Linked DNA regions of Homo sapiens. The protein of the gene in region 1 interacts with the protein of each later gene in a pairwise test. Each region holds a gene or a part of one and is shown on either strand. Other genes may lie near its edges.

The links.
Region 2: the proteins of KYNU (region 1) and MYOZ3 interact in binary tests that used the Homo sapiens proteins (3 or more experiments, as listed by UniProt).

Annotation. Positions count from the first base shown.
Region 1 is NC_000002.12:142,872,644-142,881,514, reverse strand, and holds the start of KYNU (kynureninase), read right to left. Parts: upstream 3,852-8,871; 5' UTR 3,779-3,851; intron 171-3,778; exon of another isoform or gene 1-170. UniProt on the Homo sapiens protein: Catalyzes the cleavage of L-kynurenine (L-Kyn) and L-3-hydroxykynurenine (L-3OHKyn) into anthranilic acid (AA) and 3-hydroxyanthranilic acid (3-OHAA), respectively. Has a preference for the L-3-hydroxy form. Also has cysteine-conjugate-beta-lyase activity.
Region 2 is NC_000005.10:150,664,251-150,671,250, reverse strand, and holds part of MYOZ3 (myozenin-3), read right to left. Parts: intron 5,738-7,000; exon of another isoform or gene 5,220-5,737; intron 3,135-5,219; exon of another isoform or gene 2,979-3,134; intron 2,866-2,978; exon of another isoform or gene 2,653-2,865; intron 1,929-2,652; exon of another isoform or gene 1,821-1,928; intron 1,102-1,820; exon of another isoform or gene 1,042-1,101; intron 768-1,041; coding exon 613-767; exon of another isoform or gene 444-612; intron 1-443. UniProt on the Homo sapiens protein: Myozenins may serve as intracellular binding proteins involved in linking Z line proteins such as alpha-actinin, gamma-filamin, TCAP/telethonin, LDB3/ZASP and localizing calcineurin signaling to the sarcomere.

The sequences.
Region 1 (8,871 bases):
TTAACTAACACACACAGTGTTTGGCAATAAAGAGTTGCATATCTGAGTGTTAGATAATGCCAGTAAAACAGACATTCTTCTTACACTCTCGATTTTCATTCTTGTACTTTTTGGGCTTCTTCTTTTCTCAACTGTCGATGGTCTCCACTGATAAGCCATTCTTTATATTCCTAGACAAAGATACCAAGGTTCACCATTGCATGTTTTTTACTTTGATATCAGTTGTGACTCCTAACTGCTTCAATCCATGGTTCTGTACAAAAGTGTAGGATTTCAACATTGATGGATGGTGCTTTCAATATCTGACCATAAGTATTATTTGTCCTCCACATGAAATTTTCTATTTCTGTGATTTTTCTCATGCCATTTCCTTTGCCTAAAATGTTTTGCTCCCCTTCAACTTGTTTGGATTCTAGCCAACCTTCAAAGACCTAATGCTCCAATGCTTTTTTCAAGAGGCCTGTTAGGATGTCTCAGGCAAAAGTAGCCCGTCTTCCTCTGAACACCAATAACAATTAAGAGCACACTTATGTACTTTACTTACGATAATAATACATTCTGCCAGGTACTATATTTATTTGGACATATGTATGGATAGGAAAGATCAAAAACATTTGCTATGCCTGAAACTTGATTCTAAATGGCTCCCCACACATAGCTTTCTGATGAAGGAAACTGCATTTTGAAGAGAGATCACTGTGTCTCTACCGCTTGGCATTATCAATTGCCTGGTCATAGTTTATTAGACCTCTGTTGGACACTTACCCACTAAAGACAATGTAGTTTCATCAAAGATCTGTGAATTATTTGCTATAAAAGCTCTAACCAAACAGTGATGATGTTTAGCTGAGTACATAATCAAATTCTTTCAGGAATCTGAGCTGTGGGATGTGCTTATTCATTCAGTTAGATACAGGAGCTAGAATTTAAAATAATCATAGATAGAAGCTATGAAATGCTAGGGTCTAGGAGGAATACTGTCATAGAATGACTCATTTTTCAAAGTAAAACAGAACCACTGATTGTTAAAGCATGAAAAGCATGAAGTGATTCCAGCAGCAAGTAAGAGTCACTTAGTTACACAATGGCAAGGGATTGAACAGCTATGTCTCCTGAAAAGGTGACAAGACAAGCCCATCTTGCAAGTCACTGAATCCTTCATGCAACATGCTATGTGCAAGTCTCCAGGGGACCCATCTTCTTGGCTATTCCTAAAATTCCATGAGATGTTTTTCTGCCTTACTATCAGATTAGTCTTACTACAAACATATTACTGATGGTAGCTGGACTGAGTTGCTGTTCTACCCTACTGAACTGAACTCTACCTGGGGGCCTGAATCATGTTTAATTTATCTTTATAGACATCTCATTTAGACAGAGTACCCCTGCCGCCAAAGTGGCAGTTCGAGAGAATAAACAAAATTGGTTGATGAATTATTTGACATAATGACATATTACTAGAAGGGCACCCTCTCTCATTCTGACCATATGAGAAAGACTTAGACAAACATTTCTAATGAAATTCAGAATCAAGAGAGCTTGCCTTATATTTGAGACTTTCTTTGGGAGGTCAGCCCTTTGAGTTGATTGGAGGTGACTTTAAACTCTAAGTGGGGTTACTTAAATAAAGAGATTAGTTTGTTACCAACAGATTCTGAATAAAATTCAACTTTCCTTATTTTAAAAATGATACTCATTAGCGTCATTCTATCTGTATCTTATTTAATGCTTGTAATAATCCTGAGGCATCAGAATCCTTTTCCTCTATATTGAGATGAAAACCTGGCACAGACAGAGTAGAAACCAGTGGACTAAAAGGATAGCAGAGTGCACAGTAGGGTACTTAACCATGCCTGAGATGCTGAGTCCATTGTGCTGGTCTTTGGCAAAGCCCATGAATGGAATGCACAGAGCTCAATTCCTCCTCGAAGCCTTGAACCTCTCACTTTATTTTTCCTTGCCTGTTGCTTCCTGATGTGTGTGTGTACGTGTGTGTATTTCTTCAGCTCATTCCCTTTTTCTTTGGCTTCTTTTTTCAGTCCTACACTTAAGCTGCAAAGGACCACAAGCTACGTATGAATTGATTTACCTTTTTAATCCATCCTTCCCAGTCCAGTTTCAGCCAGGCAAAAGTTAAAGTGGCTGGTTCCGCTCCTGGGCCTGTCACATCTGGGGTACCTTGAGATACCTGATGGGCATAGTCTTCCAAATGACTGCACCCTGCCCTACTCCACCACTTGCACAACTTCGCATGGTCTCAAATATAGTCTTTAGTTCCCAGAATAGCATAGTGCACTCACTCTAAGGATGCAATTTATTCACTCATACTAATTGCTGCTTAATTCTGCATTCACCCCAGCAGCTAAGACAATTAGTGTTCACAAGCCATAATGTTATGCCATGTTTAGTTTGCAAATAAAGTGACATGCTCATATTCTGAAAGGAAGAACTTAAATCCAAACTTTTAAAAACTTCAACTTTTACATATTTTACAAATTTTCAAATGTTACATATTTAGTGTTAATTTTATCAAGACGGGGGACATACATACCATATGGTCTCAGACAAATCACCTAACTGCTCTGTATGTCAATGTTATTTAAAGTTAAATTTTACTTTCTTCAAAGGATTATGGTTAAGCTCAAATGACATTAGGTCCTTTATAAAAAGATAAAAGATAGTTTGTAATATTTTTTTAAATTATCAATACCTTCTGATGGACAGCATCAATGTGCCTTCGATTTAGGTTTGGAAATTGTGCTTTCACAATTTTATTTAGACAGCTACAACTTTAAAGTAAAAAGCTTGTATAATAATTAAAAACTGATTGATTTTAACGAAATCACAGAATTCAGAATCTCCTAGTCACCCACTGATTTAGGGCTAAATAGTTAAATAAATGACTGAGTGTCTGGTAGTTAATCTTTACACAGTTTCACATTCATGCCTGAAATAAGCAAATTGTACATAGGAGTTCAAAGTTTAGAACCTGACTTAAAAATATGTTGAGAAAGCGTGTAGTTTTTCATTAGTAAAGAAAAAAGGAAAAACAATATGCATATTGAGCAAGATTCTTTAAGCATATCATTGAGAAATGGGTAACATTACTCTGCTACGAGTGTATATTTCATATCTAGGATATGAATTACTTGCTGAACACGTTAAGAAAATCAATACATTTGCTTCAGTGTTACTACTAAATAACACCCCACTGGCCTCAAAATAAAAGCAGAAAGGAAAAAAGAAAATCTAGTATATTTTTAAAAAGTGTATCAACTTTCTTTTCTTAGGTTTCATAAAATGAAAGGGGAAGAAACTCTGTTCAAGAGTAGGCATTTTCACTTCTCTAAATAAATATTTAATATGACTACTAGCAGCATAAGACAATTAAAGTTACCAGAAAACAGAGGACTTAAAATCTGTTTAAGAATATCTTTCCCTCGTCTGGAGTTTGACCTAATCTTACCGCTTAAACTCAAATAAGAACAGGACTAACTTTGGTTTGTCAAATGTAACCATATTCAGTGCACTATGTTCATCAGTTCTTTTCTATTACATTAGTAAAGATCTTTTCATTTAACCCATTTCTAAAGGTGGGGCCTTTAGGAAGGTCATACCATTTTTATTTACAAAAAGAATATATATAAAAAAAGAAGAGAGTAGCAGAAAAAAACCTCTAAAACACTATGACAAGGATTCTAGCTGACAGAAGTTTCATTTGGAAAAAACATGGAGTAAACATTAGGGTAGAGAGTTTTTATCAGCGCCTCAAGCTTACCAGCTAGGATCCCAATGGAGTGTTTGGCTCCCAGAATCTCTCCAAGAACCTCTCAAGAATTCCTTGAAAATGTACAGGCCAGATCTTAGGGTGAGAAATTCAAAGAACTGCTCAGACTCCACCCAGTGGAGAATTTATAAATATTTTACTTTACTTCCTCTCCCCTAACCAATCGGTAATCTCCAGCCACTGTCAGAAATTTAAGCAACATGTGCTCCTGCCCACCATTTCAAATGCCAGAGCCTCCAGTGAGGGCTTCTTTCCAGAGGCAACTTTGCTCTTTAAACTCAGGTAAACACACACTTGTCCTTTAACTATATAAATCTCTGACCCCTGAACTGATGAGTTGGTCTTAGAGCTAAATTCCAAATTTTGCCTTTCTTCTTCACTTTGAGCTCTGGATTTTTGAGACAATACCCTCCTTCAAATACACTGAGGATTTTCAGTCTGATGGTTGAATCTATGACATTTAATGGGTAAACTTTTTAGTCAAAAGTTTAAAATAGGCTCTCAATTCCAGAATACACTCTATTGCCTAATATGTGAGTTTTCAAAAACTCCTAGGTAATAAATCTGGACAGTTAACAAGACAATGAAGGAAGAAAGATCTGAAGATTCAAGTGGAAACTAGCCTGGCAAACTTCATTAATGCAAATTATTCATTTAAGTCTGTGAATTGTCTTTTGTTCTAGTCTGACTACCTCTTTAGGCTTATTCCTGAGCTTGGGTCTTTTGATGAATATCCTTGTAGTTATAAAAACTAAGAGCAAAGACTTTCGATATTAGGACTAGGGATGAAGAATGTGCTTGAATAATTGAATGACTTATGCACACCTATGCTTTATTTAGTAACCCACAACAAATCAAGTAAAGTGTCATTTAATCATTTCTATCAAGTGTTCATTGTATAACCCTGAGCAATTCACTTAACCCTTGTGGAGGCTCAGTCTCCTATTTATCAAATGAACTTAATAATACCTTCCTCCCAAGATTACTGAAACGATAAAACCATGCAGGTTGAAGGCCATAGATACCATGACACTCAAGTCAAAAGTGACATATTGTCTTTTTTTTAATCTTAAGTAACCAGACAAAAAGTACTACTCTCCAGTTTCCAAGAGAGGGAGATAAAGTGCATGAAATTGCTTTAATACGAGTAATTGACCAGTGAAAATAAAATATATTTCACTTCATTGATCCTATCCTTACAATAATCCTATAAAGTAAGTAGACTACCAATTGATTAACTTAGAATAGTAAAAGTTTGAATCCATTCAGGAAATTTCAGAAGGTGTACTTTTTTTGCATCTATTCTGTGTATGCCTCATGCTGTAAAAACTTTGGAAGATTACCAGGCTCTAATATATGGGGAGCGAACCAGAGGGCGGATCTGTGTCATTTTTGTGTCACTCTTTTAAAGACTGACTATAGATTTAGAGAGCTAGATATGGACATTAAGGTTTTGTTTTCACAAGATCTTGCTTCTTCTAAAATCTTGTAATAATATGATTAAAAATTTCATCAAAATATTATCTTAAAAACTACTGTTTAACTTGTCACCTTTAAAGAACTTGCTTGGAGGTCTAAGCTATACTTCTATTTCTTATGTTTTATAAATTTCTTTCTTTCTTTAAATTTGTTACATTTGAGGAATAAAAATAAAATCCCAAGCCCCTAGATTAACTGAACGGACACGCTCTTGGCCAAGGGGATCCCAGAGTAAACTTGAAAACTAAGTTTTTGGCCATGACAGGATAGGAAGTGGAACACATACCCGCTCCATCACTAACTATGATTAGGCTTTCTGCCCTATGGCTAAAAAGAAACCAGTCATTTCAAAAGATTACACCAATGACATCAACCATCACCTGGTGTTATCCCTCTCTTTTGTGGTTTGGAACAAAAAGAAAATACTGATCATGGAATGTTTCTGGCTAGTCTATGGAGAATGTGCAGTAAAGGTTTTCATGTCCTCTGCTTCACATTGGGCTGAAAACTGCCCCCTCAGATTGTATTAATGCTGTCATTTTTTGAACACGGATCCCATGGAGAAGCATGAAACTCCATTGTGCATGTGCACATTTCTCCTTTCACAAATATTCATGGCTTCCCCTATAGCTTATTGAATATATATATTCAGCTACCCTGCTCAACATAAATTTCTGTTTCCTTTGCTCCTCCCTCAAAATGTCTGTTTCCAGCTTCTGATTAGAGGCTATACTTTTCAGAGGTCAGAATGATCACCCTGCAGGCTGCAATCCTTTATGTGAAATGAAGCTCTCCTTTCCAAATGTATGAACCTGTCATTCTTCAGTTGACACTTTCATTCATTCAAGAAAAGTATTAAGCATATTCTCTGTACCAAGCACAAAGTGAAATGCCAGGGATGTAATGGGGAGCAAAACTTGTATAATAACATAGGCCGCTAAATACAGAAGGGAATTATGAGAGAACGAGTCATGCGGGGAGGGGTGAAAGCAAGACCCGCTACAGGGCCAGCAGTCAAGGTTAAACAGAGAACACTGTGAGATACCATTCCTTCCTTTTGGAAACAGGAAGAAAAAAAGTGTTGCCAGAATAAGCTGTTGTACAATTCCGAGTTGTCTATTAATTTCCAGGTATGGCATCCTGCTTATAAAATGATATGTTTCCGAGAGGAAAAGACTAATTTTATCCTCCTCAGAGCTCTACCTATGTATGGAGCTAAATAAATATCTACTGAATTGGTTAATTTGTTTTTTTTTAATTAAGATCTAGTTTATTTTCTAAAAATTGATTATTGGAAATATGGGAAAGTTTTGTCCTCTCAAAAGGTAATCTTGAACCATGAACTTTATTCTTATTCTTCAGGGCATTTTCGCCATAGTTAGGCCAGTATCTAGCATTTAGTAGACTAAAATGGGTGCTTGCTGGATCATTAACTAAATTAAATTCAGATCAGCAAACTCTTTATGTAAGAATCCAAGGCTGCACTACCAGGCTGATCATAACACTCTAATGCTGGGTGCTCAGTATGTGAAATGAGTAATGAGATTAAAGACAGAGACAAGTTAGGAAAGAACTAATAAAAAAAACTGCAGTCTCAAACTTGGGTAAACAGAAAATTTCACAATACGCTATTTTTCTTAATTAAATAAAAACGCAGAGCTCACATGTGACTTCTTAGGAGGAAAATTTACTCTGAGTCATTATTGGAACTCTCCTTTCTTCTTTACACAGGGTGTTGGGAAGTTCCCAGATGGGAGGGGCAGATTAGCTTCCTTCTCTCTGCCCTCCTGCCTCTCCTTTCCCCTCACCATATCCCTGGGGCCTTGCACACCCAATCACTCTTTCCAAACTTCCCCTTGGGGATAACCAATATAACATAACAAAAACTTTCTCAAATGCCAGTCATGAGATTTGCCTTAAGCAATTTCTGCCAAGGAACCTACAGCATCTTCTCTATATGGGTAGGGGAAAATATAAAAAACAGAGCACACACAAAATTATCTCTCCTCTCTTCTTCCCTCTCCCCTTATCTGTCCTTCCTTCCCCTCTCCTTCCTTTCCTGCTGCCCCCTCCTCTTTCCCTCTTCTTGCCTTCTCTCCTCTTTCTCTAATGCCCTCCTCTTGCCTTCTCTTCCTCTCTCTCTCTCTCTCCTTTTCTTTTTCCCTTTTTCTCTCTTCCCTCCACTGCACTCTCATTTCCTCACCCATACTCTCCTTTCTTCTCCCTCTCCCTCCTACAACAGGGAAGGCAAAGCAAATTAATATGCTAATAAATCACTAGGCTATGTTTAGACAATCTACTTTTTCCTTCCTGTGAGATACATAGTCTGGTTATTAGAAAAATTTCTCAGTAATGGGCGGGGACTTTCCTACCCTCTCTATATGTTGTATTTTCAGTTTTTCAGAGGAAAATGCAAGGGCTCGTTATAAGCAAATGACATTTTGCCAGTTGGTGATTAAAATTTATTTAGAATCTAAAATTCCTATAACCCATTCCCTTTTTCCTAGATCAGAACTTTTCCCTCACTGTTAAACTCACAAAGGTATAGAAGGCAATCTAAATCATGTGCGGTAGCAGAAGAACTTTAGTAGTTTTCTGTTATATGTGTTTGCAGGTCAATTTGCTCAATTGTCTGATTGTTTACATGAGGAATTTCTGAGTTTCCTGTAAAACATGAAAAACCCAAAGTGACTTGAGTCATATTGACATCATTGACCACATAACAACATCATTGATGTCATGATGACTCTGGAAAACGGGAACAGGCATTACAAAATCTCCATTTAAAGACAAAGCTTTCATATACCAGGGTTTCTTTCTATAGTACAAGGTACGATGTACATGCCCTCTTTTACCATAACAACTTACAACAGAAAATTTTTTTTCTTAATATTAAAAATGACTATCAACAGGGATAGTGTAGAGCTGATGTTTGGAGATGTCACTTCAAGATCCTCTTCTGGGATTTGTCCTTTTTCCTATGTTTGTCTGGCAAAGTATTTTCTAGTGTCACTAATAAACGGTGTAAAATTTCCCATTTTGGAAGTGTCCAGTATGGGTCCACCATTTTGCCAGTCGTTTGAAACTTCTCATAGCTTACAGTATGACAGACACCAAAATATAGCAAATTCCTAAATTGTCTTAACCCCACATCGCAGGCAGGGGAAAAGAGTTCACTAGACTAGGATCTGAAGAATGGTGCAATATGTCCCCAAAAGCCAAAGAAAAGTGCTTCTGAGGGGCTCTGAATCTAGACAAGGAAGATGCAGAGTATTAGATAAGAATAAGAGCTAGTAAGAAACAGAAAAGGACAAATGCATTTGAAATTTTAACTTGTCTTCATGTAAGAAAATAGTGTCCTCTATAGAAATATTTTTGTAATTTAGAGGAAAAATATAATTAGTTAGCAAAATACAAATTTTCAAAACTGACCAAATAAGAGAAACACTTGAAGAAAACAATTCCTTTAGAGGAGATTAAAAATGCATTTAAAGAGTTATTGTATAAAAGGAAACATCCCCACTGCCAGGAAGTACAGAAAAAAAAATAGAAGGCAACATTACGTTTGAAAAGTTTTGCATATGAATTCTAGCACAGCATTAAAG
Region 2 (7,000 bases), on another chromosome or scaffold:
GTCTTAGGCACATAGCAAAGGCGGGTGTTTTGCCATCTTTATTTTTCTGCCACATCACTCCCTCTCAGTTGCCTCCTGTCTAGCCCAGAAATTAAGTGGAGGGTGGATGGAATAGCCCTGGCTTCCTTAGAAGTATCTGGAACTGCCTGCTGCCTTTCTGAAGCCAAGGGAAAAACCCTTCTTGCCTTTCTTCTCCACCAGCAGATTATTCCATGGCCTTTCCTTTCTCCGGTGGGAAGAAGAAAAAAGGGCATTCTACATTTTCCATCTTAGATCAGGCCCAAGTCTAAACTAGATCCAGCCTGCTGCAAATTTAGCCTAGAGTGCATGCCTGTCTTAGCTTTTTTTTTTTTTTTTTTTTTTTGGTAGGAGCCAGAGTCCCTTCACTCCACGGCTTATCCTCAACCCCCTAATCCACTTTGTTTACTTTGTTCTGTATCCAGGGAGAGATGCCTAAAAAGATAACACTTTTCAAGGATCACACTGAAAGGCAGGAGCCTAATCTGATGGGAACATCACAGTCCTCAGCCTGGCTTACCGTTTGACTTTAGGCTAACCAGTGGCTCTCTGTGGTCCTCATTTTCCCCATGAGCACAATGGTGGCTTACTCACCGCCCGCTGGCTGGCTGCTAACTCGAAAGTGAACTTCTGCACACGGCGCTGCCTCTTCTGGAAGAGGAGGGACCCTCTGTTGTTGCGTAGTGACAGCTCCTCCATCATCAGGTCCTGGGGCACGCTCAGCTTCTTGCCCAGGTCCAGCGTAGGGACTGCCAGGAAAGGCCAGAGCGGGCTCTCACCACCCCATCCCCCATACACTCCAGGCCCCACCTCTCGAAGCATGGCATGCTGTGTGTAAGAATGCCTGTTTCTCACCAAGCTTGCCGACACCGGGTGTCATGATTGTTTGAAATCTTTGCCCACCTGATGGGCAAAAATGACACCTCAGAGTTTAATTTGCATGTGTTTGTTGCTCAGTGAAGTTTAGCACTGTTTCCGAAGTTCTTTGGCCATTTGTGTTTATTGCATGAATTCCCCATGCAGGTCTTTGCCCATAATGGTGGAGGTAGTGAGAAATGGTCAGATTCTCGATATTTTTTAAAGGTAAGCCATGGGTATGGGCAATGAGTGAGAGAGGATGACTGCAAGGTTTCTGGCCTTAGCCACTGGAAGGATAGAGCAGCCATTCACGGAGATGGGGAAGGCAAAGGGAGGAGAAGGTTCTGGGAAAGATCAGGAGTTCAGTTTTAGACCTGTGTTCTTTTAACTTTAAAATAGCCTTTTATTATTATAAAAAAGCATATATGGGCCAGGCGCGGTGGCTCACGCCTGTAATCCCAGCACTTTGGGAAGCCAAAGCAGGCGCATCACCTGAGGTCAAGGGTTCGAGACCAGCCTGACCAACATGGCAAAAACCCATCTCTACTAAAAGTAGAAAAATTAGCTGGGCGTAGGTGGCGCATGCCTGTAATCCCAGCCACTCTGGAGGCTGAGGCAGGAGAATCACTTGAACCCAGGAGGTGGAGGTTGCAGTAAGCCGAGATTGCATTGCTGCACTCCAGCCTGGGTGACAGAGTGATTTTCCATCAAAAAAAAAAAAAAAAAAAAAAAAAAAAAAAAGCATATATGGGCCCTGAGGAAAGTTGGACAATACAGATATCAGACAAAAAAGAGAAAAATACCATTATCTATCACCCAGAGACTGCCACTATTAACACCTTAGTGTATGTCCTTTCATATCTTTTTCAATGACTATATTCCTATGAGGTTTTAACCAAAATAAAATTATAGCATACATGTTTTGTAATTTTTTTTTTTTTGAGATGTCACCCAGGCTGGAGTGCAATGGCACAATCTCGGCTCGCTGCAACCTCCGCCTCCCGGGTTCAAGCAATTCTCCTGCCTTAGGCTCGTGAGTAGCTGGATTACAGGTGCGCACCACCACGCCCAGCTAATTTTTGTATTTTTAGTAGAGATGGGGTTTCAACATGTTGGCCAGGCTGGTCTCAAACTCCTGACCTTGTGATCCGCCCCCCACCCCCCCTCGGGCTCCCAGAGTGCTGGGATTACAGGCGTGAGCCACCGCTCCCGGCCTGTAACTTGTTTTATCAAGATCTTTACAAGTTAAAGATCTCCACATTTCCAAGTGAACAAATTTTTGTTTTACCTAATATCTAGTCCATATCCAAACTCTGCTAATTGTCTCCAAAACTGGGCACACTAAGTTTGAGGAGACTTGTAGGCATCTAAGTAGTGGTGCTGAGGAGGGAGATAGATGTGTGAATCTGGAGAAAACTGACCTGGAGGTGAAATGTTGGGCATCATGAGCTTTTACTGGTATTTACTGGTATTTGTTGTTGTTTTTCAATGAAGAACGTTACATTTATTTCTTTTCTCATAGTTGGAACTAGTCTTTACAGCTATTTAGAGGATTTTCAGGGTGATGGCTGTTCTTAGTAGTTTGAGACCCATCCCTATCCTTTGTGCGTTTCCTACCAGCCAAATTCAAACTTTCACGTTTGGCCAACAAAGGAAGCCTTTTGCAGGACAGAGGGGACAGAATGGTGAGGACCTTGGCAGGTGAGAGCCCTGTGTGGGCAGCACGGCCTGCCTAGTCCATCTCTAAAATCAGATACACATACGTTCATATTCCAGCTCCATAAATGGTATTTTAAGCTGGGAGGCTGGATGAGATCATAAAGAAATGAGAATAGGTAAAGAGGATCAGAGACGGAGCCTGGGGCCTCCAACATTTACAGTGAGGCGGTGAGGAGGAACCAAGCCAGGAGCCTGGGCAGGAGCAGCCCACAACATAGGAAGAAACTAAAGAGGATGGCATCCTGGAAATAAATGATGAAAGCATTTCAGGTATGATAGAGAGACTAACAGAGCCAAGTGCTGCTGATGTGTCAAGGAAGATGAGGGCTGAAAATCCACTATTATATTTAGCAATACAAGGTCATTGGTAATTTTCACTAAAGCAGTTTCTATGGAGTGTTTGGGTGTGAAAGCCTAACTGGAGAGGGTTCAAGAGAAAATGGACAGAAGAACAAGTTTAACCACACCATGAGGAAGCGATAAGCCAAATCCAGGACGCAGGACATTCTACAGGACAACTGGCCTGGTTTTTCAAACAAGTGAGTGACATGGAAAAAAGGGGCAGAGGGGTTGCTTTAGATTAAAGGAGATTTAGGAGCCATAGCAACCAAATAAAAACTGTGGCCCTTGTTTGGATGCTGATGAAAACAAACTAGAAAACTGAAGAAGGTTGAATACAGACCGCTTATTAAATGGTATCAAATCATTACTGCAAATTTTGTTCAGTATGCTAATATCTTTGTGGCATGTAAGGAAATGCCCTTTTATTATTTTGATGCATTCTGAAGAATTTGCGGGGTGAAATGACATGCTTTTTGGTATTAGCTTTGAAATTTAGGAATGAAGGAGGGACCATGTACTCCCTACTTGTATGTGTCTTTGGAAATTGACTAATAAAATGTCAAAAAGAGAGAAAGAGAGGATTGGTAAGAACAATATAGACAACTGCTTGGAAGAGTTGGGCTTTAAAGGATCCTGGCTACAGACAGCTATGGGATCAAGAGGGGTTTGTTTGTTTGTTTGTAAAAATGGAGAAATAACAGCATGTGCGTTAACTGACGGGAACATTTGACAATGCAATAGAGAGAGGGGAGAATTGCTGAAGGAATGTCCTTGAGCAGGAGTGACAGGAGAGCTGGGTTTCCAGAGCCCAGCCAGAGGAATTGGCACCAGGCAGGTATGAGGAGAGTCCATCCACCATATCAGAAAGGAAAACCACAAACACGGGTGCAGATGCAAGCAAGTAGACAGATGTGGCGGAGGATGCTTGCAGATGTTCTCTTCTGGTTACTCTATTTTTCTCAGTGGAATAAGAAGCAAGGTCTTTAGCTGAGAATGAGGTTGTGCAAGGAGGTATTGGAGGTTTGAGAAGAGGGGTTGCCAAAGTCATTAAGAGAGTAGCATGAGATAGTGAATGAACTAGGGAGATGGACATGGCTACCAGGCAGTACTGGGGGTCACTTGGGTGCTGTGATTCATGCCAGTCAATGGAATCCTAAATAGCTGTCTAAAAAGGACACTGATTTTTTTTTATTCTTTCAACGGACACATAAAGGACACTTTTTATGTGCTAAGAACAGAAAGAAATCCACTTATAGGCCGGGCGCAGTGGCTCACACCCATAATCCCAGCACTTTGGGAGGCAGAGGAGGGTGGATCACTTGAGGTCAGGAGTTCAAGACCAACCTGGCCAACATGGCAAAACCCCTTCTCTACTAAGAATACAAAAATTAGCCAGGCATGGTGGCGTGTGCCTGTAATTCAGCTACTTGGGAGGCTGAGGCACAAGAATCACTTGAAGGTGGAGGTGAAGTTTGCAATGAGCTGAGATCATGTCACTGTGCTCCAGTCTGGGCAAAAGAGTGAGATGCTGTCTCAAAAAAAAAAGAAAAAAAGAAATCCAGTATAAATTAATTGGAGGGGAAAGTAAGATTCAGAAGAATAGGTATTCTAAGATCCCATTTATATTATATATTATATAACTATATTTTATATATATGTGTGTGTATATATATATATATATATTTTTTTTTTTTTTTTTTGAGACAGAGTCTTGCTCTGTTGCCCAGGCTAGAGTGCAGTGGTGCAATCTCGGCTCACTGCAACCTCTGCCTCCTGGGTTCTAGTGATTCTCCTGCCTCAGTCTCGCAAGTAACTGGGACTATGGGCATGAGCCACCACGCACGGCTAATTTTTGTATTTTTAGCAGAGATGGGGTTTCACCATGTTGGCCAGGCTGGTCCCAAACTCCTGACCACAAGTGATCTGCCCGCCTCAGCCTCCCAAAGTGTTGGGATTACAGGTGTGAGCCACCGCGCCCGGCCCCCATTTCTATATTAAAAAATAAGTATGTGTTTTTGCATGCATTGAAAAATCTGCAAGGAGACATGCCAAGGAGACATGTCACCACAGCAGTGACCATGGGACATATAAAGGAGGAGGGTTGGAAATTGTTTACACTGTTTTGTTGTAACTGTTTTTAACAAGAAAGTGTACTGCCTACTTAAAAATATAAAAGAATAGTTATACCTAAATACATAATAAAGCACCCTCAGTATCATATTCTGAAATACTATACAGATGAGCTGAGCTCAATATTGTTCTTTTTTTTTTTTTTTTTTTAGACGAGTTTCACTCTTGTTGCCCAGGCTGGAGTGCAATGGCATGATCTCGGCTCACTGCAACCTCTGCCTCCCGGGTTCAAGCGATTCTCCTGCCTCAGCCTCCCGAGTAGCTGGAATTGCAGGCATGCACCATCACGCCTGGCTAATTTTGTATTTATAGTAGAGATGGGGTTTCTCCATGTTGGTCAGGCTGGTCTCGAGCTCCCAACCTCAGGTCATCCGCTTGCCTCAGTCTCCCAAAGTGCTGGGATTACAGGCGTGAGCCACCTCCCCCAGCTGAGCTCAATATTTAAAAAAAAAAAATGGCAGGCACAGTGGCTCACAACTATAATCCCAGCACTTGCAGAGGGCAAAGTGGGTGGATTGCTTGGGCCCAGGAGTTCAAGACCAGCCTGGGCAATATAGCAAGACCCTGTCTCTATTAAAAAATAAAAAAAGATAAAATCTATTTGACTGAGTATTTCTATTTCTAGGAATTTATTCTCGGGGAAAAAGTTGAATAAATATGTCCAAAGATACATGTATAAGAATGTTTATTGCAGTGGGGTTTAAAATTGTGAAAACTGGGACTCAGTCTCGTGGTGGATGCTGCCAGATGCCCCTTATTAGTGGCTAAGAGTTCACACCACCACCTTCTACAGAGAACTGCCAGTGGAATGGATGCTCCACAGCGCCCTTGCCTCAGGTGGGATGAATTCTGTGGAGCAATTCATGCTCGAGAGCTCCCCGCGGGGTCACACTGAACTGGACAGCCGCTGAGCCCACATCCTCGCTCAGCAGTACCCCACCCTAGGCTGCATTCCTCCTTCCCTTCCGAGAGCACGTTCTCAATAAGTCACTTGCACAAGGCTCCTCTGTTCTGCCCCGAAGGATCTCACCCCAGACAACCCTCATCAGGGGATGGTTAAACACACATGACGTGTCCAAACAGCAGAAAGCTGGTAAGCACGGGGAAGGAAGGCGTGAGATAAATCATACTAGGATGGAATGCTGCTAAATGAAAAAAAAAAAAAGCCAAAGAACATAGCATATAGTATTTAGCCCATGTGTATGTATGTTTATATAAAGACATTCATATATGAACAGAACAAGAATTTACATAAATATGTTAACAGTGGTTATCTCCAGATGGTTCCATTATGATGAACTTTCAAAGCCGTTCATGTCTGTTTTGTCTGAATTAAACAAATTTTTTTAATGTATGCCAAGTCAATGGCAAGTGAATTTTTTTTTTAAAAAGTGATGTATTATCATTGTAACCATGTAATAAAGAAACAGCTCTGAAGACAAAGAGACCTGGAGTCAAATTGCAGCTCTACCACCTACCAGATGTGATCACCTGCTCCTCTGAGCCTCAATATTCTCATTTCCAAAATGAGGAGAATATCTAACTTAGGGAGTTGTGGTGGGGATGAAATGACACAAAGCATAAAGGATACTTTTCTCTTAGCAAAGTATCTGCCACATAGTAAGCATGCAATGATGGTAAACATTTTTATAACTTTTACTTTACAGTGGCCGTCTTTAGGTAGTGAGATTATGAGATTTATTTTTTCTTCCTACTTTTGTTTCAAAATTGTCTTTAGTCAGTACCTTAGCAATAATCAACAAGTTATATATTTCAAGTCTTGTATCAATGATGTGTCTCCATATTTGGGGGTCTGTAATGAACTCCCCAAGAGAAAAGAGAATGCATTGCCTGACCCTTCTAGTTAGAGCGTCAGTACCCATAGAATGTGCATATTTCAGCTACAAAATCAGGGTAGGGGAAGAAACTGGAC